7 linked regions of the Homo sapiens genome follow. The protein of the gene in region 5 interacts with the protein of the main gene of each other region in a pairwise test. Each region holds a gene or a part of one and is shown on either strand. Other genes may lie near its edges. The genes, in order: SLC35B1, GKN1, PECR, TM6SF1, MFF, MTNR1B and MPZL1.

Evidence for each region.
Region 1: the proteins of MFF (region 5) and SLC35B1 interact in binary tests that used the Homo sapiens proteins (3 or more experiments, as listed by UniProt).
Region 2: the proteins of MFF (region 5) and GKN1 interact in binary tests that used the Homo sapiens proteins (3 or more experiments, as listed by UniProt).
Region 3: the proteins of MFF (region 5) and PECR come close enough for resonance energy transfer, tested with the Homo sapiens proteins (one large-scale study listed by BioGRID).
Region 4: the proteins of MFF (region 5) and TM6SF1 interact in a two-hybrid assay, tested with the Homo sapiens proteins (one large-scale study listed by BioGRID).
Region 6: the proteins of MFF (region 5) and MTNR1B interact in a two-hybrid assay, tested with the Homo sapiens proteins (one large-scale study listed by BioGRID and IntAct).
Region 7: the proteins of MFF (region 5) and MPZL1 interact in binary tests that used the Homo sapiens proteins (3 or more experiments, as listed by UniProt).

What each region holds. Positions count from the first base shown.
Region 1 is NC_000017.11:49,700,443-49,702,703, reverse strand, and holds the end of SLC35B1 (solute carrier family 35 member B1), read left to right. Parts: intron 1-1,193; coding exon 1,194-1,246; 3' UTR 1,247-1,761; downstream 1,762-2,261.
Region 2 is NC_000002.12:68,977,636-68,981,476, forward strand, and holds the end of GKN1 (gastrokine-1 precursor), read left to right. Parts: intron 1-1; coding exon 2-139; intron 140-1,235; coding exon 1,236-1,346; intron 1,347-2,277; coding exon 2,278-2,425; intron 2,426-3,093; coding exon 3,094-3,188; 3' UTR 3,189-3,341; downstream 3,342-3,841. UniProt on the Homo sapiens protein: Has mitogenic activity and may be involved in maintaining the integrity of the gastric mucosal epithelium.
Region 3 is NC_000002.12:216,043,810-216,047,309, forward strand, and holds part of PECR (peroxisomal trans-2-enoyl-CoA reductase), read right to left. Parts: intron 207-3,500; coding exon 95-206; intron 1-94. UniProt on the Homo sapiens protein: Participates in chain elongation of fatty acids. Catalyzes the reduction of trans-2-enoyl-CoAs of varying chain lengths from 6:1 to 16:1, having maximum activity with 10:1 CoA. Has no 2,4-dienoyl-CoA reductase activity.
Region 4 is NC_000015.10:83,106,493-83,110,444, reverse strand, and holds the start of TM6SF1 (transmembrane 6 superfamily member 1), read right to left. Parts: upstream 2,801-3,952; 5' UTR 2,765-2,800; coding exon 2,673-2,764; exon of another isoform or gene 2,559-2,672; intron 1-2,558. UniProt on the Homo sapiens protein: May function as sterol isomerase.
Region 5 is NC_000002.12:227,342,251-227,345,750, reverse strand, and holds part of MFF (mitochondrial fission factor), read right to left. Parts: intron 3,007-3,500; coding exon of another isoform or gene 2,932-3,006; intron 1-2,931. UniProt on the Homo sapiens protein: Plays a role in mitochondrial and peroxisomal fission. Promotes the recruitment and association of the fission mediator dynamin-related protein 1 (DNM1L) to the mitochondrial surface.
Region 6 is NC_000011.10:92,976,151-92,979,650, reverse strand, and holds part of MTNR1B (melatonin receptor type 1B), read right to left. Parts: intron 2,493-3,500; exon of another isoform or gene 1,961-2,492; coding exon of another isoform or gene 1,864-1,960; intron 1-1,863.
Region 7 is NC_000001.11:167,787,982-167,790,200, reverse strand, and holds part of MPZL1 (myelin protein zero-like protein 1 isoform a precursor), read right to left. Parts: 3' UTR 1-2,219. UniProt on the Homo sapiens protein: Cell surface receptor, which is involved in signal transduction processes. Recruits PTPN11/SHP-2 to the cell membrane and is a putative substrate of PTPN11/SHP-2.

The sequences.
Region 1 (2,261 bases), on a different chromosome or scaffold from region 5:
GTGGTACGATCTCAGCTCACCAATCGGGTGAGCCTCCTCCTCCTCCTGGGTTCAAGCAATTCTCCTGCCTCAGCATCCGGAGTAGCTAGGATTACAGGCATGCACCACCATGCCCGGATGATTTTGTATTTTTAGTAGAGATGGGGTTTCTCCGTGTTGGTCAGGCTGGTCTCGAACTCCCAACCTCAGGTGATTCCCCCCGCCTCAGCCTCCCAGAGTGCTGGGATTACAGGCATGAGCCACCGCGCTCAGCCCAGAGAAAACTTTTTTAAAAGAGAAAAGAGGCTGAGTGTGGTGGCTCACGCCTGTAATTCTAACACTTTGGGAGGCTGAGGCAGGAGTATCGCTTGAGTTTAGGAGTTCGAGACCAGCCTGGGCAACATGATGAGACCCTTGTCTCTGCAAAAAAATACAAAAATTAGCTGAGCATGGTGGCAGACGCCTGTGGTCCCAGCTACTCGGGGCTGAGGTGGGAGGATCGTTTGAGCCCAGGAGGTGGAGGCTGAGGTGAGCTGTGATCACACCACTGCACTCCCACCTGGGTGACAGAGTGAAAATCTGTATCCAAAGAAAATAAAAGGAGAAAAGGAAGCTTTATTTCTAATCCAGCCTTCCTAGGGTCTCCCTCTGTTGCTCAGGCTGGAGTGTAGTGGCATGATCATAGTCCACTGCAACCTTGATCTCCTGGACTCAAGTGATCCACCCACCACAGCCTCCCGAGTAGTTGCGATTATAGGCATGTACCACAATACCTGACCAATTTTTTTTTTTTTTTTTGTAGCGATGGGGTCTTGCTGTGTTGCCTAGGCTGGCCTTAAACTCCTGGGCTCAAATGATCCTCCTGCCTCAGTCTCCCAAAATGCTGGGATTGCAGGTGTGAGTCACCACATTCAGCCATAGCCTAGAAGTTTTGACTCTTAAATTTCTTTTAGTCTTGCTGTATTATATATGTATCTATATCTATCTGTATCTCTATATAGATATATTTATATAGATACAGATATCTGTAATAACTAGTATCCTGGTGCCATTCTCTTGTCTCTGAGGAAGTTACATAAAACCAGTGTTCTGACATGTATTTTATTTAAAGCCCCCATTTTGGAGATACAAGGCCGACTACCCCACCCCACCACAATCATTGGTAAGTTTCATTTCCCCCCATAAGGCTAAGCCCATTTTCTTCCTTTTCATAGGTCTTGGTCTTGATGCCAAGTTTGGGAAAGGAGCTAAGAAGACATCCCACTAGGAAGAGAGAGACTACCTCCACATCAAGAATATTTAAGTTATTATCTCAAACAGTGACATCTCTTGGGAAAATGGACTTAATAGGAATATGGGACTGAGTTCCAGTCTTTTTTAATAAAATAAAATCAAGCAAAATCACATATTCTAAAAAATGCACTTGGATTTTAACAAGACAGAGTGGTGGTTTTTGTTCTTCATGCCCTGGAGCAGTCTATGGTAAATAAAAGAGGGAGGGAAGAGGCAGAGCTGGATGTTCATTACCCAGGCTGCTCCTCTCACGGGTGTGGTTAGCATGGTTGAGTGGGCGATTCCTCCAAGAACCTGAGGATTATAGGGAGGAACTCTGTGAGATCGCAGAATTGTGCTAATGGCTTCTGTTCCGATGGGTGAGGCTTGTCCCGTTAGAGCTGGTCCCATTAGAGGACGGGTGGCTGTCCATTAGAGCCAGAGAATGTAAAAGTCACTTCCTCTCCTAAAGCTCCTGTGGGCAAATATTTCATTAAAAAAACAAAGTTGTGTTCTGTCTTTTTCTTAGGCCTGGTGCAGTGGCTCACACCTGTAATCCCAGCACTCTGGGAGGCTAAGGCAGCAGGATCACTTGAGTTCAGGAGTTTGAGACCAGCCTAGACAACATAGTTAGACCTTGTCTCCACTAAAAATCAAAAACAGAAAAGAAATATTCATTGAGGCTGGGGTAAAACGAACCCAGAGTTTCAGAATCTACTGTTTTGCCATTTCCCCACTGCCTCCCCTTCAGCCACAGCTCTATCAAGACCAGAGTGGAGACCCAGTGCATACATCATGATCAGCTTTGGAAGGTCTGTGATGTACTTTTCCTGATATTCCCCCTCCATCTGTCTGTCTGTTCTCAGTCTACCTGGTCCCCTCCAGGGAGGCTGGGTTAATCCCTCCTATTCCCCTGCCTCCTCCAGCTGCTGAAGCATTGCAGTCCTCTGCCATCCTTTGCTGTGCCAAGGTGTCACCATGCCAGCTTCTGCCTGTTGAAAGGGATGCTG
Region 2 (3,841 bases), about 160 Mb from region 5:
GAATATCAACGTCAATGATGACAACAACAATGCTGGAAGTGGGCAGCAGTCAGTGAGTGTCAACAATGAACACAATGTGGCCAATGTTGACAATAACAACGGATGGGACTCCTGGAATTCCATCTGGGATTATGGAAATGTAGGTAGTCAACGTGCAATTTTCACTTTATTGTTTAAAAATACGATTTCTTTTTAACAAAAAATGTGCATGTTAACCATAAAGAAATTAAAAATAAATTCTAATTACACATAGCATACAGTTATAAGTAAAGGTGACCATTTTGCTCATCCGATTTTGTTCCCTAGAGATAACTACTGTTAATAAGTGTTGCATGATCAGTTAAAATTCAAACCAACAAACACTATGTTCAAGGGATTGTGGGTATATACAACAAATATGAACATCCTTTTGCCTTGCCTGCAGATACCCTCAATAATGCTGAAAGACTTATACAACATTACTGCTTCCAAAGCTTAGACTATCTCACTTTGTTTTCAAAGGAGGTTTTACGACCTTCTAAAGAGATTGAAATTGACATTTCACCTAAAACTCGGGAAATGTAAATGACAATATTAATTGGTAAGAGAGGAAAGAAGAAAGAAAGAAGGAAGGAAAGAAAGAAAGAAGGAAGGAAGGAAAGAAAGAAAGAAAGAAAGAAAGAGAGAGAAAGAAAGAAAAAGAAAAAAGAGAGAAAGAGAGAAGGAAAGAAAGAGAGAAGGAAAGGAAAAGAGAAGCAAAGAAAGAGAGGAGCAAAGAAAGGAACACTTAGCACTAGTTAGGAGACCCAACTCTGGAATTATCAGCTATATATTTAACAAACGTTATACTTTTAAATAGCAAACTCTTTATTGTTTCAATTTTATCTGGTCAATTGGAAAAATAATTTTTGTCTTATCTGTCTCCTTGAAATGTGAGGATCAAAGGAGACTAAAACATGATAGCTTTTAAAGTCTATTTCAGTAAAACAGACTTATATAGAGGGGTTTTTATCATGCTGGAACCTGGAAATAAAGCAAACCAGTTAGATGCTCAGTCTCTGCCCTCACAGAATTGCAGTCTGTCCTCACAAATGTCAGCAATAGATATGATTGCCAAGCAGTGCCCCATCCAGTGCTCTTATCCCAGCTCATCACGATCTTGGAGTTCCCATTTCTCTCTGCAGGTGGAACTGACCTCTGATAAGAAAAGCTCCTCGGAGAACACATGCCTCACTATTTGCCATCTACTTTAACAGGGCTTTGCTGCAACCAGACTCTTTCAAAAGAAGACATGCATTGTGCACAAAATGAACAAGGAAGTCATGCCCTCCATTCAATCCCTTGATGCACTGGTCAAGGAAAAGAAGGTAAAAATAAAAGGCTTTTTATTTTTGGTGAGGGGAGAGGTTTTACATCCTTCAGTAAATAACGAGAAGATCACAGTCATTCCCTCTTGACTACAGTATGTTGTAGTGTGCAGCACAAAGGGGGAAGTTATTGGTGATTGCCTGAGGGAAGGCAACTTCTGCCACATCAAATGCTGTGGCTCACACCTACCTCTACAACCGCTGAGCAAAGCACTTGAAACCTTGACTGTTAGAGGAGCAAAGCTCTGGTCACACCAATAGGAGCCTCAGTACTTTGCCAAGGACATTTTTCTGCAAGAGTTAGTTAGGGTTATTAGATTTAGCAAATGAAAATAGAAGATATCCAGTTAGGTTTGAATTTTAGGTAAGCAGCAGGTCTTTTTAGTATAATATATCCTATGCAATATTTGGGATATACTAAAAAAAGATCCATTGTTTATCTGAAATTCAAATGTAACTGGGTATTGTATATTTTGTCTGGCCATACTAATCCAGGTGAGTGGAAAGAAGAGATCCATAATGTTTTAAAATATTTGCCTGAGTTCATATTCCTATAACTGATAAATGAGTACCTTTCATTGACAAGGTAGAGAAAATAAATAAACTGCATTCTCAGAAGATGATTATTACATAGTCTAATCCAAGGAATCTATGATGACCAAATGAGGTCCAAGTTGCAGAATAAATTAAGCCTCAGACTTCTGTGTTTATGAGAAGCTGAGGTTTCAAACCAGCTAAATCCCTTAGGACACTTAGAAATGCTAAGATATACAGAATAAGCTAGAAATGGCTCTTCTTCATCTTGATTATGGAAAAATTTAGCTGAGCAACACTCACTGTTGGCCTCGTATACCCCTCAAGTCAACAAACCACTGGGCTTGGCATTCATTCTCTCCCATTCTTCCTTTCTACCTCTCTTTTCCACACTCAGCTTCAGGGTAAGGGACCAGGAGGACCACCTCCCAAGGGCCTGATGTACTCAGTCAACCCAAACAAAGTCGATGACCTGAGCAAGTTCGGAAAAAACATTGCAAACATGTGTCGTGGGATTCCAACATACATGGCTGAGGAGATGCAAGGTGAGTAGCATCCCTACTGTGCACCCCAAGTTAGTGCTGGTGGGATTGTCAGACTATCCTCGCGCGTGTCCATAGTGGGCACCAGTGATGCAGGGATGGTCATCAAGGCCAACATTTGTGCAGTGCTTGCTCTGTGCCAGGTACTGTTCTATGTGCTTTAAGTGTGTTAACTCGGTTCTTCACAGCAATCTTATAGGTTCTATTTTAATCCTACTTTATGGATGAGGAAACTGAGGTACAGAGAGGTCACAAAATCCTTGCCTGGGTCAATTCCAAGCATTTTGGCTGTGGATTCTGTGCTCTTAAATATTATGGAACACTGCCTTTTAAGTGTGAATCAAGAGTAGACTCAAGTCATATTCAAAAGAATGCATGAATGGCTAAATGAAAGAAGAATGCTAATAGAATCTATTAACTTTCTATAGCTCAGACAATCACTTAATTTCTGGACATTCAAAGAACAGCTGCACACAAACAAAGTGTCTACCTAGGGACCTAACTTAATGGCAATTTTCCAGATCTCTGAATTGATTGATTTCATCACAACAAGTAGATAAACCTTGACATTAGCACATAGCTAGTTTGGAAACCCCTACTCCCCCAATCCCCTCCAAGAAAAGAGTCCTTAAATAGACATTAATATAGGCTTCTTCTTTTCTCTTTATTAGAGGCAAGCCTGTTTTTTTACTCAGGAACGTGCTACACGACCAGTGTACTATGGATTGTGGACATTTCCTTCTGTGGAGACACGGTGGAGAACTAAACAATTTTTTAAAGCCACTATGGATTTAGTCATCTGAATATGCTGTGCAGAAAAAATATGGGCTCCAGTGGTTTTTACCATGTCATTCTGAAATTTTTCTCTACTAGTTATGTTTGATTTCTTTAAGTTTCAATAAAATCATTTAGCATTGAATTCAGTGTATACTCACATTTCTTACAATTTCTTATGACTTGGAATGCACAGGATCAAAAATGCAATGTGGTGGTGGCAAGTTGTTGAAGTGCATTAGACTCAACTGCTAGCCTATATTCAAGACCTGTCTCCTGTAAAGAACCCCTTCAGGTGCTTCAGACACCACTAACCACAACCCTGGGAATGGTTCCAATACTCTCCAACTGCTCTGAAGGCTGCTCTATAGTTGTTGTGCACAGTAACGTTTCAGATCAGCAAGGACAGAAATTCACTCAGAGTCACATAAGCAAGAAAGGGTGGTTTATTGCAAGGATATAAGAATATCTCAAAAAATCTGAGGGCAAGAAAAGCAGCTGGTTATCAAAAAAACTACATCCAGGAACTCTGCTGACACCAAGACCCAAGTCTGCTTCTCTCCCTGAAGCCACGCGTTACCTTTTCTCTCTTCTTCTCTAAATTTTACTTCCCTCTTTTTCGCATATTGCGGATGGATTTTTTTG
Region 3 (3,500 bases), about 11 Mb from region 5:
CCCTCATCTCTTAAGTAACTACTTATAATAAATTTTAAACCCCTGAACATGACACAGCATAAAGCTGGTGACTGCTCATTCCTCAGCTGCTCACCTGGTACCTCATACGAGTGAGTATAGAGACTCCGGCCCCCATCCACATCCACCGACTGTCCAGTGATGAAGGAAGCTGCAGGAGACAGTAGGAAGCAGACCACAGAGGAGACCTGGAAACAGAAACACACATGTGCATAGGTAAAAGCAAATACTCCCCATTTCTAACCGCCTCACATTCCCCAGTAAAGGCATCTCAAAGCCCATGATTGTAACATGAATCCAACAGTGTGTGCATGTGCACCACAACCTCACAGTACATAGACAACTTCCTTTTCCTACAATTTCCCTTTCTACCTGAGCATCACCGAAATCAGGTAGGTGACTAGGGTAAAGGTGGCAAGGTATGAGGGAGCCTTAGACGATGTCAAGCAAGCTACATGACGTCAAGAAGCCATAAGTGAACTCAGTGCTTCAGCTCTGCTCTTTCCCATTTCAAACAATTCACTTCCTTCCATGCCTTTCATTGTCCTCCACAACCCCATTTTCCATCACTACCTCGTGCCTTTTATGTTTTGGTCCCTGAAATAGTCAATGTGTCTGTTTAGCAATAAACTAGCATTCTGGTTTGTTCAGTCTGCGGTCCTGTCAGGCCAAAAGCCCAGCAACACACATTCAAAGGAGCTCTCTACAAGAGGAACTTCAAAAACTTAGCCAGGCACAGTGGCGGGCACCTGTGGTCCCAGCTCCTTAGGAGGCTGAGGTGGGAGCATTGCGTGGGCCTAAGAGGTTGCAGTGAGCCAAGACTGCACCACTACATTCCAGCTTGGGTGGCAGAGTGAGACTCCATTTCAAAAAAATAAAAATAAAAATAAACCAAAGGCACTTCAGACTCCCACTGTACTCCTTAAAAATTCAAATAGGGAACTGATGAGTTCAGCAACATCTACTCCCAACCCAAACAGAAGGAAGTTATTTCACTGACTTGTAAAGGAGCTCTCACTTGAGGCTGTGGGAAGAAGCAGAGTTTCTCAAAGGGTGATGATCCAAAACACCTGCATTAGAATCACTAGGGATGCTTACTGAGACTTCAGATTCCTAGATCCTTCCAGGATCATTGCAATTGTAAGCTCTGGGGTTGGGGTCCCAGAATCTGCAGTTTAAAAGGCCCCCAGGCAGGGCCAGGACTAGGGTGAGGCAAATAAGGTGTCGAGGGTGCAAGATTTAAGGAGGTATTCACTCTCAGGTTTGCACAAGTGCAAAATCTTCCCTCAGAGGGAGTGGGTCCTTAAATTTTGTGTCCATGCCTTGCTTGCCTCATCCCAGTCCTGGTCCTATATTCACAAGGCTATACCTCCTTGAGACTCTAAGAGCTTGGAGAGCAGCCAAGCCTTCTCTCCATCCTTGTATTCCCAGCAGCTAGTACAGTGCTGCACTATCTAAAACGAGGCCATTAGACATAGTCGCCTACTCAAACACTTTCAGTATGACTGGTCCAAATTGAGACGTGCTGTAAGTATAGAACACACACTGGATTTTGAAGACTGAGTATGGGAAAAATAATGTAAAATATCTCATTAATCCTGGATGCTCCGAGGGATGAAGAAAATCATCTCAATTTTCCATGTTGATTACATGTTGAAATGACGATGTTTTGGATGTATTAGGCTAAGTCAAATATATTATTAAAATTAATTTCACCTCTTTTTACTTTATGTGGCTCCTGGTAAGTTTAAAATTACAAATGTGACTATTAGTATATTTCTACTGGACAGGGCTGGTATAGAATTCACTATTTAAAAGGTCCCACATTACTGTGAAAAGGCAGATTGTACTGAGACATGGTAACAAGCAACAGAGCTGGTTTTAACCCTGTTTGATCCAGTAGTGACAACTCAGCCAATGAACATGTTTGTTAAAGTCAGCGCATCAAAAAGAGACTTGCTCCAATGAGCTCCTTTCTGAAATGCCATCCAGACAACAACCATCCCACCCAAGTAGTCACAACCTCTAACAATCTGTAAACCACACTCCCTCAAAAACACAAAAAACCGGCCAGACGCGGTGGCTCACGCCTGTAATCCCAGCATTTTGGGAGGCCGAGGCAGGTGGATCACCTGAGGCCAGGAATTCGAACCAGCATGGCCAGCTTAGTGAAACACTGTCTCTACTAAAAATACAAAAATTAGCTGGGCATGCTGGTGCATGACTGTTAATCCCAGCTACTCAGGAGGCTGAGGCAGGAGAATCGCTTGAACCAAAAAAAAAAAAAAAAGTTTTTGTTTCTTTTTTTAAATGTAGCTATTTTAAAGTAAATGTTATTTATGTTAACATGTACTCCTTTATTACTATTTTAAAATGAATTAATAATATTTCTTAAATTTTGGTTTTAATTTCTAATACAGCAAATATAGATAATGTAAACCACATAAAGTATATATATATACATACATATATATATATATATATTTTTTTTTTTTTTTTTTTTGAGAAGGCGTCTCACTGTCACCCAGGCTGGAGTGCAGTGGCGCAATCTCTGCTCACTGCAACCTCCGTGTCCCGGGTTCAAGCAATTGTCCTGCTTCAGCCTCCCAGGTAACTGGGACTACAGGCATATGCCACCATGCTTGGCTAATTTTTGTATTTTTTAGTATAGACGGGGTTTCGCCATGTTGGCCAGGCTGATCTTGAACTCCTACCTCAAGTGATCCACCTGCCTTAGGCTTCCAAAGTGTTGGGATTACAGGTGTGAGCCACTGTGCCTAGCCTCCCAAAGTATTCTATCAAAAATAAAAATGTAATATAATTGCCTTGATTAAAATTCATTAAATATTACTCTTAGTTTTCAGAATACAAATCCAAAGACCTTGGTTAACATGGCTCATCAAATGTTTGATTTAACAGTATCTTCCAAAATACAATGCAAGTCTATTTTGGTTCAGGAACTCTGTTTCTAGAAACATATCCCCTCACCCAAGAGTACATGATTATATTCATAATGTTCATTGCAGAATTACTGCAAGAACAAAAATATAAATAAAATCCAAATCATAATGGGATTTGATGATATTATAGTATACCCATAACAAGTTTCAGAAAATAACACAGAGTAAATTCTGTTTTCGTAAAAAAGTCAATAAATAGGCCAGGCGTGGTAGTTCACGCCTATAATCCCAGCACTTTGGGAGGTTGAGGCAGGTGGATCACCTGAGGTCAGGAGTTCAAGACCAGCCTGACCAGCATGAAGAAACCCTGTCTCTACAAAACTAGCCAGGTGTGGTGGCGCATGCCTGTAATCCCAGCTACTCTGAAGGCTGAGGCAGGAGAATCGCTTAAACCCAGGAGGTAGAGGTTGTGGTGAGCCGAGATCGTGCCACCGCACTCCAGCCTGGGCAAGAAGAGTGTAACTTCGTCTCAGGAAAAAAAAAAAAAAAGTCAACAAATACAAATTTTTAATGCATGCAAAG
Region 4 (3,952 bases), on a different chromosome or scaffold from region 5:
GATTGTCTCTGACTCTTGGCACTGTCCCCAGAGACCCTCCTACAACAGCCAAGTGCAGGACCTGCTCACCACAGGAAGAAACAGGTCCTGCAGGGACTCAGGGACAGGTAAGGGCTGCGACTAACCCCAGGATGAGAAAGTTGCTAGTCTTGGGGGGTGGGAAGGGCTGCTGATGCCCTTCTATGAACAGACACCTACTGAGAGGGGACATGCAAGGATGAGTGTGAGCAGTGTGTCTCTCTCAGTGAGAGAGGGAGACAGAACACGCTCAATCCTTTCCTGACCTCTCAATCTAATTTTCTTTTTCTGGTTTTCAGAGTTGCATAAAAGGTTTGGTGGGAAGGAAACTCGATTCAACAAAGTCAAACATACCTGAGTGCCTACGATGCACACGGCGCTGGCCTGGGCAGGACAGTACAGAGGGGTGAGCTATAGCCGGGGCAGGTAAGTTCTTACCACAGGAAAGTAACTCTCGGGAGAAAGGTGCAAACAAGGGACTGAGGGAGCTCAAAGGAGAGAGAGGGAGGGTCTGCAGAAGGTAGAAGTGGCCATAAAGTCCAGGTGCGGCTTCAACAGTCTGCGATAGGAGGAAGGCAGCATCCCTGTCAGGGAGCAGCAGGAGTCCGGGCTAGAGGCTGGAGAGGAGGAGGAATGGTCAAGGAGCAAAGGCAGGCTGGTGCGGCAGGAGCACTAGTGCGTGGGCTGGGACTGGGGGGCCGAGGCCGAGAAACACGCAGCGGGGCTGGGCAGCGAGACTTGCACCGGAGCCTTTGCCACAGTCCAGGTCAGAAAGGGCCAGTGCCAGGGAGAACTGAAAGGAGGGAACAGACACTAGAGCCCCAGGACTTATGGGGAAGCAGACAGTAGGAGGAAGGGAGTGGAGAAAGAAGAGAGGAATCAAAGGCCACGGGGGTTTTAACCTGCAAGAGGACAGGAAGAATGGCTGACACTAATTATTCAAAATGCTGTAGTGCTTGCCAGTGCGCTCCATCATGCACAGCAATACATAGTTCAGTCTGTATTCAGTAAATGCCATCACCATCTTCCCAGTGGCTGAGGCCAAAACCTAGGGCTCATCCTCAAATCCTCTGCTGCCATGCAACCCTCTTCAGTAAGCCCCATCTGTTCACCTTCCAAAATACCTACTACGCCCATCCAATTCCTTCCCCTGCACTGCTCCATTTTCCTGCCCGACAGGCTCCATTCCCAGATCTTCCCATAGCTCAAGTGTTACCTCCTCCTAGAAGCCTTCCCTGGCCACCAGCCCCCTCCCCAGTCACCCTATTTTATTATCTTCATAGCATGTCACTATCGATGTATTAATGTTTGTTGATGTCTATCTCATTACCTGCCTCCACAGCCTCTTCTGGCTTGTTCATAGCTATGTCACCAACACTTGGAACAGTGCCAAACACACAGTAGGCACTCAGTATATCTTCACTGAACTACCCGTAATGCCATTTTTTGGAGCACAGGGTCCCCCATGCACTATATTGACAGGCATGTAATATTCGGTGGCCCAGAGCAGCTGCCTCCAGGGGATGCCTCCAGAGACTGGGCCAGACCAAGGGTAGACACTGCTGGTGCCTGGTGAGCACTCAGTGTGGGTGCTGCCTGTATCAGGCGGCCAGGCAGCTGGAGAGGAGGAAGTTACCACCCTATGTACAGACACTCCACGGCCTGACCAGCTGAAGGGGGTTTGCAGCCTACAGACTGATGCAATTTCCTTAGCACCAACAGCTGAGAGACATAGCAGGTTACTTCCTCCTCCCTCCAGACAGCAACCAACATCAGCAGGAACAGAGGCTGGCGCCTGTCCCAACACCCGGCGACCCTCAGGCCTTCAGCTGCCGGCTGCAGGTTAGTCCGTGATCCCTGCAGTGGAGTGGGAGGCAGGGCTTCGAACCCAAGCCCTGTCCCCCTCCATCAGCCCCACCCATTTCCTTCACATTGAAGTGTTCTGCCTCTGCTGCCTGTCCCCATCCTACCCCAGCGCAGGCACTGGGAAGCACTTCTCCATTCACAACGCCCCTTCACAAAGAGGTCTCGGTGGAACCTTACAATAGGACGCACACAAAGTCCACTTGACCGGAAAACCGAGGCCAGACCACACCGTCAGTGCCAAACACCGTCAGGCCAGACACCGTCAGTGCCAAAGCCAGGCCTAGAACCCACGTCTCTGCCTGTTGGTTCCGGGCTATTTCTGCTAGTCATTCACAACAGTTTCTAAAATTAATAAGAAATGATAAGTATGCGAAAGTCCATACATGGAAACGTTCCCGTGAGATGCAAAAAGAACAAGGCACAAACGAGCTGACACGGCCAGGTTCGTAGTGTCCGTGTTTGTTCCGCTCCCCACCGGCCCCTGGGCCCCTCCAGGGCAGGGGCATGGCCGTATTGACGCCTGTGACCCCGGGCACCTGGCGCGGTGCTGGCACCAACATCCCGAAATGCGCCAGCCTGGGCACCTCAGGGCCCGGCTCCAAGACCCGGCCCGTGCGACCCCTGGGGCGCCCCCCTAGTCTGGCCAGGCGCGGGGAGCCCCTGCGGCCACGAACCTCTGTCCCGCGGCGGACGGTCCCAGCCCCCTCGGAAAAGTTGCGAGGCTCCCGTCGCGGCGAGCCAACTCCCGCCGCCCCTCGGCGCGACCCCCGCCGCGCCGGCTCACTCACTCATGCTGGGCCGCCAGGTGGTTGAAGACATAGGTGACCGGGATGGCCGAGAGGGACAGCACGAAGACCCCGGTGGCCGCAGAGGCACTCATCGCAGCCGCCGCGCCGCTCGCCCTTCACCGCATCCCGCTGGGCGCCCCGCCCCAGCTTCCGGCGGCGCCCGCGCCCCCTTGGCGCTTGCCCTTCGAGGCGCCTCAGCCGCGCCCCCCGCGTGGCGCCCTCAGCGGCGTCCCCTCAGCGGTGTCTCCTCCGCGCGCCCTCCCAGCCCGCAGCCGTCCCCCGCGCCTGGCCCCGTCGCCCCAAGTGCGCAGGGCCGCGGTGCAGTCCCGGGAGGCGTCCTTGCAGTGCTCCTGCCAGGGGCGCCACGGCTCAGCGGCAAGCGCCCGGCGGCGCCGAGGGGCGGCGACACCCCCGCGCAGGGACAGGTGCCCCTGGCGGCGCGCGCTCCGAGGGAGGGCCCGGGGCACGGCCGGGAACCGGTCATCGAAGAGCTGGAGAGGCGCGGGGCTGAGCTGCGGTCCGGGAAAGGTGGAACCAGATCCGAGGGTGTCAGAGGAGGAAGGGCCCGCGGGATCGTCTATGGGGGAGCCCACGGCCCAGAAGTGGGAAAGGACAAAATGCCCCTGAAACCTCGGAACCTCTCCGCTCCAGTAGCCATCGGCGGGCTGCTGCACGGAGCCGGCATCCGGTTTTTAAACCTGGCTCTCCAGTCACCAGCTGTTGACTTTGGTCAAATTACTTAACCTCTCTGTCTTTTCCCTTATCTGGGAAATGGGGATAACACACTTCATAGTGTGACTGTGGGGTTAACTGAGTTCATACCTACGAAGCGCGTTATCCTGTGCTGCTCACTACACCACCTCCTGCGATTCTTTTTTTTTTTTTTTCTTTAATTGAAATGGACATAAATGCTGAGACTCTAAGAGACTAGAGCGCCATTCATTGCTATTCCAGGAAGCATTCCTGGAGGCCAGGTGCCCACCAGCCAGCCTGCATTGGGCCCTGCAGGGTACAAAGACTGGAAGATAAGCCTCTTCCTCTGAATGATAGATGCCTACGGGTATGGAAAATATTGTGTGTCAAGTGTTGTGGCTATCTGAAGGGCAGTGAGTTCCAGGAGAACAGCTCAAGCAACTGAGGGAGGTACCGGCATGTACTTACTGTCTTTACAACTTCCAGGGAATTTAAGAGACCATTTATGTGTTTTTGCTGTTGCCATTTGAGGGGTTTATTTTATTTATTTATTTATTTATTTATTTATTATTTTTATTTTTTTTTTT
Region 5 (3,500 bases):
GTAATTGGCAAAACCCATACCAGGCATTCCAGAAGGGTAAAAACAAATAAACAAACAAACAAACAAATAAAAAAAACATCCTATTTGTGAAACAAAACTATATGTTAGTCTTACACTCAGAATTCTCTTTAGGCAGCACTGGGAAAACCTGAAGCTCTTACTGCTTGTGAGAATTAAAAAATGGTCAGTTCTACATCAACATAAACAAACAATCCATCTTACACTCTTCTTGATAGAGCAGCCAGCGTTAACTGCCTAAATTCACTCAAGCAAGTTTTAAAGGACAAATCCGTACTTTGCCTTTGCATTTGGGGGTTTAAATTGAACACTTTGTGTATCATTCTGTACTGATAAATAAACCAGCTATATACTAACATATTAAAGGCTACAATAATCAATATTTAGAATTATAATCTTGGGGCAACAGTATGAATGAACTAAACTCAAATCCATGAAAAAAACTTAATGGATGTTGGCCCATTAAAAATTAAAATAAAAGAAGGGTTACTTCCTCTAAGAGAAATCCTTTTGCCAGAAACAAACAATAATGAATTGTTTATTTAAACTGTAAAAGTACAAGTATTTTCTGTCCATATATAGGAAATGAGGAGGTCATCTTATAAAATAGTCAAACATAAACTTACTTCAGACTAACTGCAAAGAGTTCCTAAGATGGAATGCAGAAGGTTGGATTCTAAAACAATCTATAAGATCTCTCTCAATTCTAAGATTTTACGATCACATGAAATTGGAATACAATGAGAAAAAACCTTACATGATCCTCAGTTATAATTTAACATGAAAAATACTTATGTAGAAAGATAAAAGATGAAATTAAGTTTTTATCAATACTAGTAAAGATATTTATTTCCTCAAAAACCAGCATCAAAAACATAACTTGAGGTTCTAGTTGTTTCTCAAAAGAAATTAACATTTCAAAGATTAGTAAAAAAATTAGCTTTTCATTCATGTGTATGGCAATCCTCCATAAACAAAAAACGAAATCGGGAGTATTTTTTTTTTTTAATTGATGACTACTTTTGCCAGTGTTGTATAGATTAAATGTCCTTGTTTGGTAACATTTAATTCCATCCACAGATGAAATAAATCACCATTAAGACTGCCAAAACTACATTAGTAATTAGAGGCAATAAATAATTTAGCAATTGTCTTTCCTTTTTAAAACTTTAAGCAGTCTTGTTGGTATTTTTTACAAATAAATGTAAAAACAAAAAAGAATAAGCTCCATTTTAGCAATCAGTTTGACAGGAGCTAAAATGTACTCCACAGCTATCAACTGTGGAGGGAAACAGCGCTTTCATCTCCGTCCACTCATGGACCCAACCAAGGTTTAATGACTTCCTGTTTCTGTAGTTTTGACAAGTGAACTATTGTGGAAAATAAAAAAGTAAACATACTGCAAAGGCACTGAGAAGATTAAGTAAATGGCATTATATATATATTAGTAATTTAATAAAAATGCAATTTGATAAACTGATTCCAGTGATATTATAAAATAGCAAAGTCTCAACATTACCTTTTTAAAAGAAAAGATTAGAAAATTTTGAAGAAAGCACTGATGTTTACCATGCTTCATTAGTAATAGCTCTACCTCATGCTTACATGAAATCTTATCACATAAGAGTTACATAAACAACACCAGGGCTGGGCACAGTGGCTCATGCCTATAATCCCAGCACTTTGGGAGGCCAAGGTGGGCAGAGCACTTGAGGTCAGGAGTTCAAGACCAGCCTGGCCAATATGATGAAACCCTGTCTCTACTAAAAATACAAAAGTTAGCCGGGCATGGTGGCATGTGCCTGCAGTCTCAACTACTTGGGAGACTGGGGCAGGAGAATCGCTTGAACCCGGGAGGTGGAGGTTGCAGTGAACTGAGATCACGCCATTGCACTCCAGCCTGGAAGTCACAGTGAGACTCCGTCTCAAAAGAAAAAAACAAAACAACCAAAAAAACACCAGCCAATTGTCAGAATTAAAATTTAAATAAAAATTTACTTGGCATAACTATATCATTATTAAAAGTAAGTTCAAAATCAAGTACCTCTTTGAGTTTTCATAGGAATAATGTTTCCCAACCTGTGAATTTAACCTCTTCGGTGAGGTATCACTCTTCCAAAAAATAGGGTAAAACAATAAAGAGAAAAAATTTTCACTAAAACACAAATATATTAATTTCTCTTGGAATTGTAAATACAGAGGAAATTTTAATATATTGCCACTATCTATGGCAACTGAATAGTTCCTGGAAGCATAATAATAGAACCAGAATAAGAGGAAAACTGTTGGCTTTCGGTGCAGTTTCTTCTGTTGCTTAAGAAGTGTATTAGCTATTGAATACCTGTATTATATACCAAAACGTTGTGCTCCATGAGTGAGTCATTCTCATACCTTATTTTGTCACATGGAAAGAGTGGGTTTAATAATAGCAAAAAAGTGCTTCCAAGCATCGTTTTCATCTATGGGATTATAAAATAAATGACAAACCACACTTATGCTCCATTCTCCTTCAGAAACAAGATAGAAGAAGAAAAGACAGTGCGCTGAAATTAAAAAAAAAAAAATTGGGATCACTGCACCAGGTGACGTTGAATCTGTTGAGAACTATTATACCAACCAAAGCAAAATAAACAAAAAAGGATGCTTGGTCCTTATGTGCATATTATATTTCAGGTTCCTTTCACCAACACATGCAAAATCATATACAACTTCCTTAGATGGTCTAGTTTTTTTTTTTCCTTAATAAAGCATATAATGACAGTTTGAGAAATCCTGAAACAGAGGTACTAAAAAGCCAAACAGGAAGATAATTAGGATAGCATACGTCAATTACCTGGTGAATAGATTAGTATTAACATAATCCTTCAAAATCAAAACAACTACTTGTCAAAAGCAGAGCAGATAAAATCTTACGTGTACTCCGGTGCAGAAATCGGTGCCTGGAACCTTGAAATTTTATTTCTTGGGGCAGAATCTGATCTGTGCCACCTTAAATAATAATTATGCTTCTTTTACATATTCAGCTTTTATAACACAAAGAAAAAGCTAGATCTGATTTTACTGTTTAGAATTCACTTTTGCGCTAATAGCTGACCACAATCTTATTGCCTCTTCGAAGTAATTAAGAAAACAAAGGCTAGTGCTCCTGCTCTCATACCCGTTCGCACTTTTATTCTTAAAGCCATGGAATAAAATAAAGTGGAGACAGGCAAAGTTTCATGCACTATGACGCACAACAATTTCATGTTACAAAGAAAACACTAAAGTAGGTAAAGATAGTAAGAGTTTAATAATTATTTTAATAGAGGTATTATATCAATTGTTTTTTCCTCACTACGTTAACAACACTGAATAATATGTTCATTATACAAAATTCTAAAGTTAGTAAGATGTAGATTCTTAAAGATAAATTGTAAATTATAAAATTAACAACAGTAGGAAAAGAAAGGGCAAAGTTACATTATTAACAAAATACATACATA
Region 6 (3,500 bases), on a different chromosome or scaffold from region 5:
ATGTAACTGAATAGAAAGGAGATTGTCTGGACAATTAGAGCGCTTGTGAGGTAGTGAGTTTCCCTGTCTCAAGATTGTCCAGCAAGTTGGATGGCAAAGGAGAATCATGACTCAACTGAACTGCTGGATTCCTACCTACTCTACTATTCACAGATTTATTTACTTCATGGGTTAAAAATGACCTCATTTCCTTTCTGGTTGGTACAGCAAGGCAAAAAATGTGCAACAAGGACCTGCTTGGGATGTGGAGGGGTTTTGTGCCTTTTAATTTAATTCTCAGCCCGCTGGCTGTCTCCACTGCTGGATCTCCATCTCTGACTCATCTACACAGACCTCACTTGGTTCCAAGAACATGAGGGATTCCCTCTCTCACATTGCTTGTCTTCAGCTGAATCAGGAACCCTTGTCTCCTGAGAATTTTATGTGTCCTTTTGAAATCTGGAGGGTTGTGCTGAAGTCAGAGAAATCTGGGATAATCTGAGTCCTGCCACTTTATGGTTGAATGAATTTGGGCGAGTTCCCGAGTTCCTTTCTTGGTGACTATTCCTACATGAGCTCCTTTCTTTTCTTTCAGAGCTCTGCCATCACTTCCCCCTGCACACTCATAGGGTTGGTTCTGTGAAGAGAATCACTTCTCTCCAGCACAGGAAGATGAGTCTCCATAGGACCCGCTGGGCACCTGGCCCAGCAACACACAAGCTCTTGGCACTTGCAAGCTGAGCAGAGAAAGTCAAGAGCTGCTGGGAGCCGGTGCCAGCTCTGCCAGCTGTTTCCCTGTGAAGGCAGAGTCAAGTTCTGCTGTGTTAATGTGGCTTATCCCCTAATAATGCCCCAGAGGCTGGCAAACAGCTTGTAAATAGTAAGAAGAACACATTCAACTCCATGTGGAAAGTGATTCAATTACTATCCCCTATTACTCTGGCTGTTCCTAAAAGGCTGAAATCAACCACTTCCTGCTATAGATTCATCTGCCCAGACATCCCACTGTCTCCAGGCTTTCTTGGCACAATTCCAAATTAGATGAATAAAATTTGTGTTTTGTCTTCCATCTGTAAGAAGCCAGGTCCTATGTGGATGATAGTCAAGGGGAGATCCAGTTCTCCATCCATTTCTTCCCCAGACAGGTGAGAAATCACTCAGTATGCACACAGCACTGCAGTCACCGTGTGCATAATGAATATTTATGTCATGGGTCCTGGCGTGACTCGTTTCCATCTGCCTCCAGCAGATAGGGTGTATTAGTGGAGAGAGGCTTTGACAAGAGGGCTTTGTTTACTAACATGGAATCCCCTTCAGGATTCATACGCAGAGCGCATCCTTTCACACACACAACCATCACAGTCTCCTCCCTCTTCTCTTCCTCTCTCTTTCTTTCTGGAAAATGTATTTCTTAATGGAGATCTGGTAATCTAGGAAAGAGCCAGCCAGTGCTGAGCTATCTAATATTCGTCAGATAGGAGAATTCTGGAAGGTAAAGCTCCCTGTAACCCTTGCCCCCCTCCTCTGTGCTCACCCTCCATGCTCAGAAGAAAAATTTGGTTAGACATAAATTCTCCTTGGTCATTGAGCTAAAAGACAAGATAGAAAGAGAGAATCATCAAGTCATTTATGTGACAAATATTGCTGAGTATATACTAGGTTCTGCCTTTGACTATGCCAGATGGACAGGCTACCTCCCCTTATAAAGTTTATGGTCTCTTAGGGAAGACCATTAAACAAATAAAAACAAGGTGCCAAGAGGGATATGTTGGGGAAGTCAACAAATGATCTATGTTTTCTAACAGTGTTAAACTTTCTGTGCCTTGAGGTCTTCTTCCACTCTTCCATCTGTTTAAATGTGTAATATATTTATTGAGTGCCTACCACATTCAAGTAAGACGCAGTGATGGATGAAAGACATGGCCCCTGCCATTGAGATGCCCATGGAACTGTTAGGGAAACAAAAGAAAACAGTAGCCATTCAATTAGGTGAGAGCTGGAAGAAAGGCCAGAACAAGGTGGTGGGAACAGTGGGGAATTTGTGAGTCAACTTGGGACTGGGGACAATGGCAGGATATGGGGTTGGTCAGGCACGACAATTCACCAAGGAGCTACACAAAATTACCAAGACTTTTGCAACAGAACTCCTAACTCCCAGAATGGCTGTTTACCTCAAATAAGATGTTGTATGGGAAAGGTCATGAGAAATAACAATAATCACCAAATTAATGTGAGATATTCTTATTATGTTCTGGGGATGGGCATTTGAAATAATTGACCATATAATTTATTCACAACTTGATTTTCAAACAAACACTAAAACAATGCATTTATTGTAAGCTTGTAATTAGATTCCCAAATCTCTTGAGAGCAGATATTTTTTTCTTCCAAAGTCACATATTTATGAAAATCTTAGGATGTGTGGATGAATCATACAAGAGCTGAGTTGAAATCTAACTTTGATTTAATTAGAAAACAAAAACTGGCTAATCAATAGTGTACACAGATATATATGGGGGTATTTCAACCACTTAAAAGAAGAAAATATATTTAAGAACATAAGCATCCATTTAAAAACATAACTAAGATGCTTTACAAAATATTCTTCAATAACCATCAAAAGAGATCATTTTGAAATTCTGATAGGTAACATTTTATTACTTTACACTTAATAGCAACAAAACAACCATTGATATAACATGGTGAAGTTGATAGTATAGTTTTACATAAATGGACTCCATTGTTTTTCACAAGAATTCCTTAAGGTTGACAGCATGATTTCTGTTTTATAGATAAAGAAACAGACACCCAGTTTGTGTGAATTGCTCATAGCCATAACACAGAAGGATTGAGAAAGAACAAGAAGAGGAGAAAACCAAAGAAAAGAAATATCAAGGGAATTAAGAGAAAGGGTGTAGAGAGTTTCTTGGTCATCTACAAAAGTGAGAAAGGACAGAAAAGTGCTCATTGGACTTGGTAGTTAGGAAGGCAGTAGTGACATTAACAAGAACAAATTCTGTTGAGAGCTTGGGGATCCAGTTTTGCCCTGGAGATTGCTCTATCAGTGTTGCCTTCAAAAGAAGGAGATAGAGAGTGGCGCTTAGGAAGGAATATCCCTTTGATAGGGGACAGTGGAGGGCTTTTTTTGCCTTTTCTTTCTCTCTTAAAGGAAAGAGACTTGAATCTGGCATATAACAAGCACTAGTAATATTAGCTATTATTTGTTATTACTGTTTTATATTATTAGCTGTACTGACAGATCAAGAAAGAGGCTCATAAGGTTGGACTGGGATCCCTGTGAGATAAGATGTGAGAAGTAGTAAGGACATGAAGATGAAGAAAGTAGGACATTCCTTCTAGATGGCAAACTCCCTAAGAACTGGGGCTTTACTTCCCAATTCTCTATCTCTACTCCTCCAGCAGTAAGTATTTTAAATTGAAAGAGCCAGTAGGAGCTTTCAGTATTCTCTGAATTTTGTGGTATATCATATCCGAATGCAGAATCCAGCTTTCTGGAGATA
Region 7 (2,219 bases), on a different chromosome or scaffold from region 5:
GTCCCGGCACCGCAAGAAGAAGTGAAGGCTCTTGCTCTCAGGGAGCTCCGAAATGTTTCATTTATTCACAGGAACTGTTGAGAAAGCAGTGAAAAAACAATGCCCCTTTTCTCTGTAAAAAACGACTGTAAGGAAACATGACACAGGCCTGTCTACAATGTGTGTCCTCTGTACCTCAAGCACAGCCCTGGTCAGCTATGTGGTTTTCATGGTGGCAAAGGCTCACCAGGAGTCTCAGCTTGAAGGATGGTGACAATCTCAACACCCTTCCCCTCCAAACATAAGAGGCCTTCCAAAGGCTCCTATAGTTTTCAAAATAGATGCCCAAAAAGTTTTAGGATGCAAGGCAGAGTTGACCACTTTGTGGAAATGTCTCAGGGCCAGCACTGTGTGTCACTCTCTTGGGCTGGGCCTATGAACATGGAAGGCAGCAGGGCAGGCGTTTTTTTCTCCATTCCACACAGAACACAGAGCAGACGCTGCCCAGCTTCAGACATGTGTGGTGACCAAACCTGATCCCTGTTGACTCACACAGATGTGGCATGTAAGGTGGAGCGTTACAAGAATAACAAAAATAGCTCCTCAAAAAACAAAAGGCTTCATGTATGCAACAGCATTAGTTTTGAAGCTCATATGCCCTTTATCTTACCACCTTGTGCACACCTCAAAATCTCAATCCTGTTTTATTCCCTTTGTGAATTCTGTTGGAACTCAGCCTTCAAACATCCCCAGAAGATGACAAGATGAGAAGAAAAAGCAGCAGCTCATAATGGACTCCAAACTACAGGGAGAAAAAGTAACATTGCCCCTCACTCCCACTCACCCCAAACACGTTCTGCAGACCATCTAGACAGTAATTCTTTCCATAACTGTGGGCTTTCGAACAATTTTAAAAGGGGGGAAATTTAAAAAAAAATTCAGAAAATGGGAGAAATGACAACATAAGTGTTGAATGATCTTCACCACACTTTCCATTCCCAGTAAAAAGTAAAAACTCATAGATTTTAAGTGCGGTGGGGAGTAGTGAATAGGAGAAAACAAGTTTTAGGGAAGGACAGCCAAACTGTCTAATCTAGGCTCTCATTAACCTCAACAGTCTTTGAGGCACCATGAAGCTGTTATAAAGCCATGACTGATGCTGCCTCTTGCTGGAAGCATGACTGACGCTTTATAAAGAAGGTGATTCTTGCCAGCTGCAGTGGTGCAACTATAGTTCGTTCCAGCTACTCGGGAGGCTGAGGAGGGAGAATCACTTGAGCCCAAGAGTTCAAGGCTAGTCTGGGCAACATAGTGAGACTCTACCTCAAAAAAAAAAAAAAAAGCGAAAGAAGGTGATTCTCTAGAGAGCGAGCTCTGGGAGATTGGAGAGCGGCAACATAATGATACCATTTCTGCCTACTTAGAAGGAAAGAAACTCCTCTCCTTTAGCTGTATGGTGACTGTTATTTCAAGCAGAAAGGACATCAGCAAAGAATAAAACCGATACTTTTTACTCTCCACGTTACAAAAGTTCTCAAGCAAAGCTTGGATTTTCTACTTAATCAGTATTGATCCAACTGTGTCCAGAATGAAGTGACCTTCGGCATTTATCCTTTGCTAATCTTGCTATTATGAATCCAGAAATTGATATGACACATTTCAAGGGTGCAAACTTAAAGTAAGTCTACACAACATGTAAGGCTAACAATTGCCCCATATTTTAGTGAGAAAAACTTCAAAAAAACTTCTCAAATTGTTTTCAAGTGGCATAGCCAATGGGTATTTTTTAAAAGCGGCAGACAAATAAATGGTACTGATACTGTGCTAAAGGCCACCCTGGGTATGCTTCCATCATAGCATCTCCATCCTCCAACTACAGTAAATGCTAAGACTAATCAGTCTTAAGCCCTTAGATTAAAAGGCCATGTCTACTGGAAATACTACAGGATCTGCTATTGTCTCCATTAAGGCAAACCATTTCTAAATGATGGTGAAAGGAATGTTTCTGAAATCTCCCAATTGTAAATGACCTGAAAAGAAAGTACAAAAACAGCAAGACAATGGGTACATATGTAGAATCATACCATCTTTTCATCATGCAACACTGGCTCCTCATATCAGGATGACTAAATAGAATATTTATACATATCCTTTGTACACATCTTTCTCTCCCTCTGTGAGTACACGTGTACTTGTCCTTGCCTGGGTCTCCAAGGCTACATGTGGTAATGGGCTACATT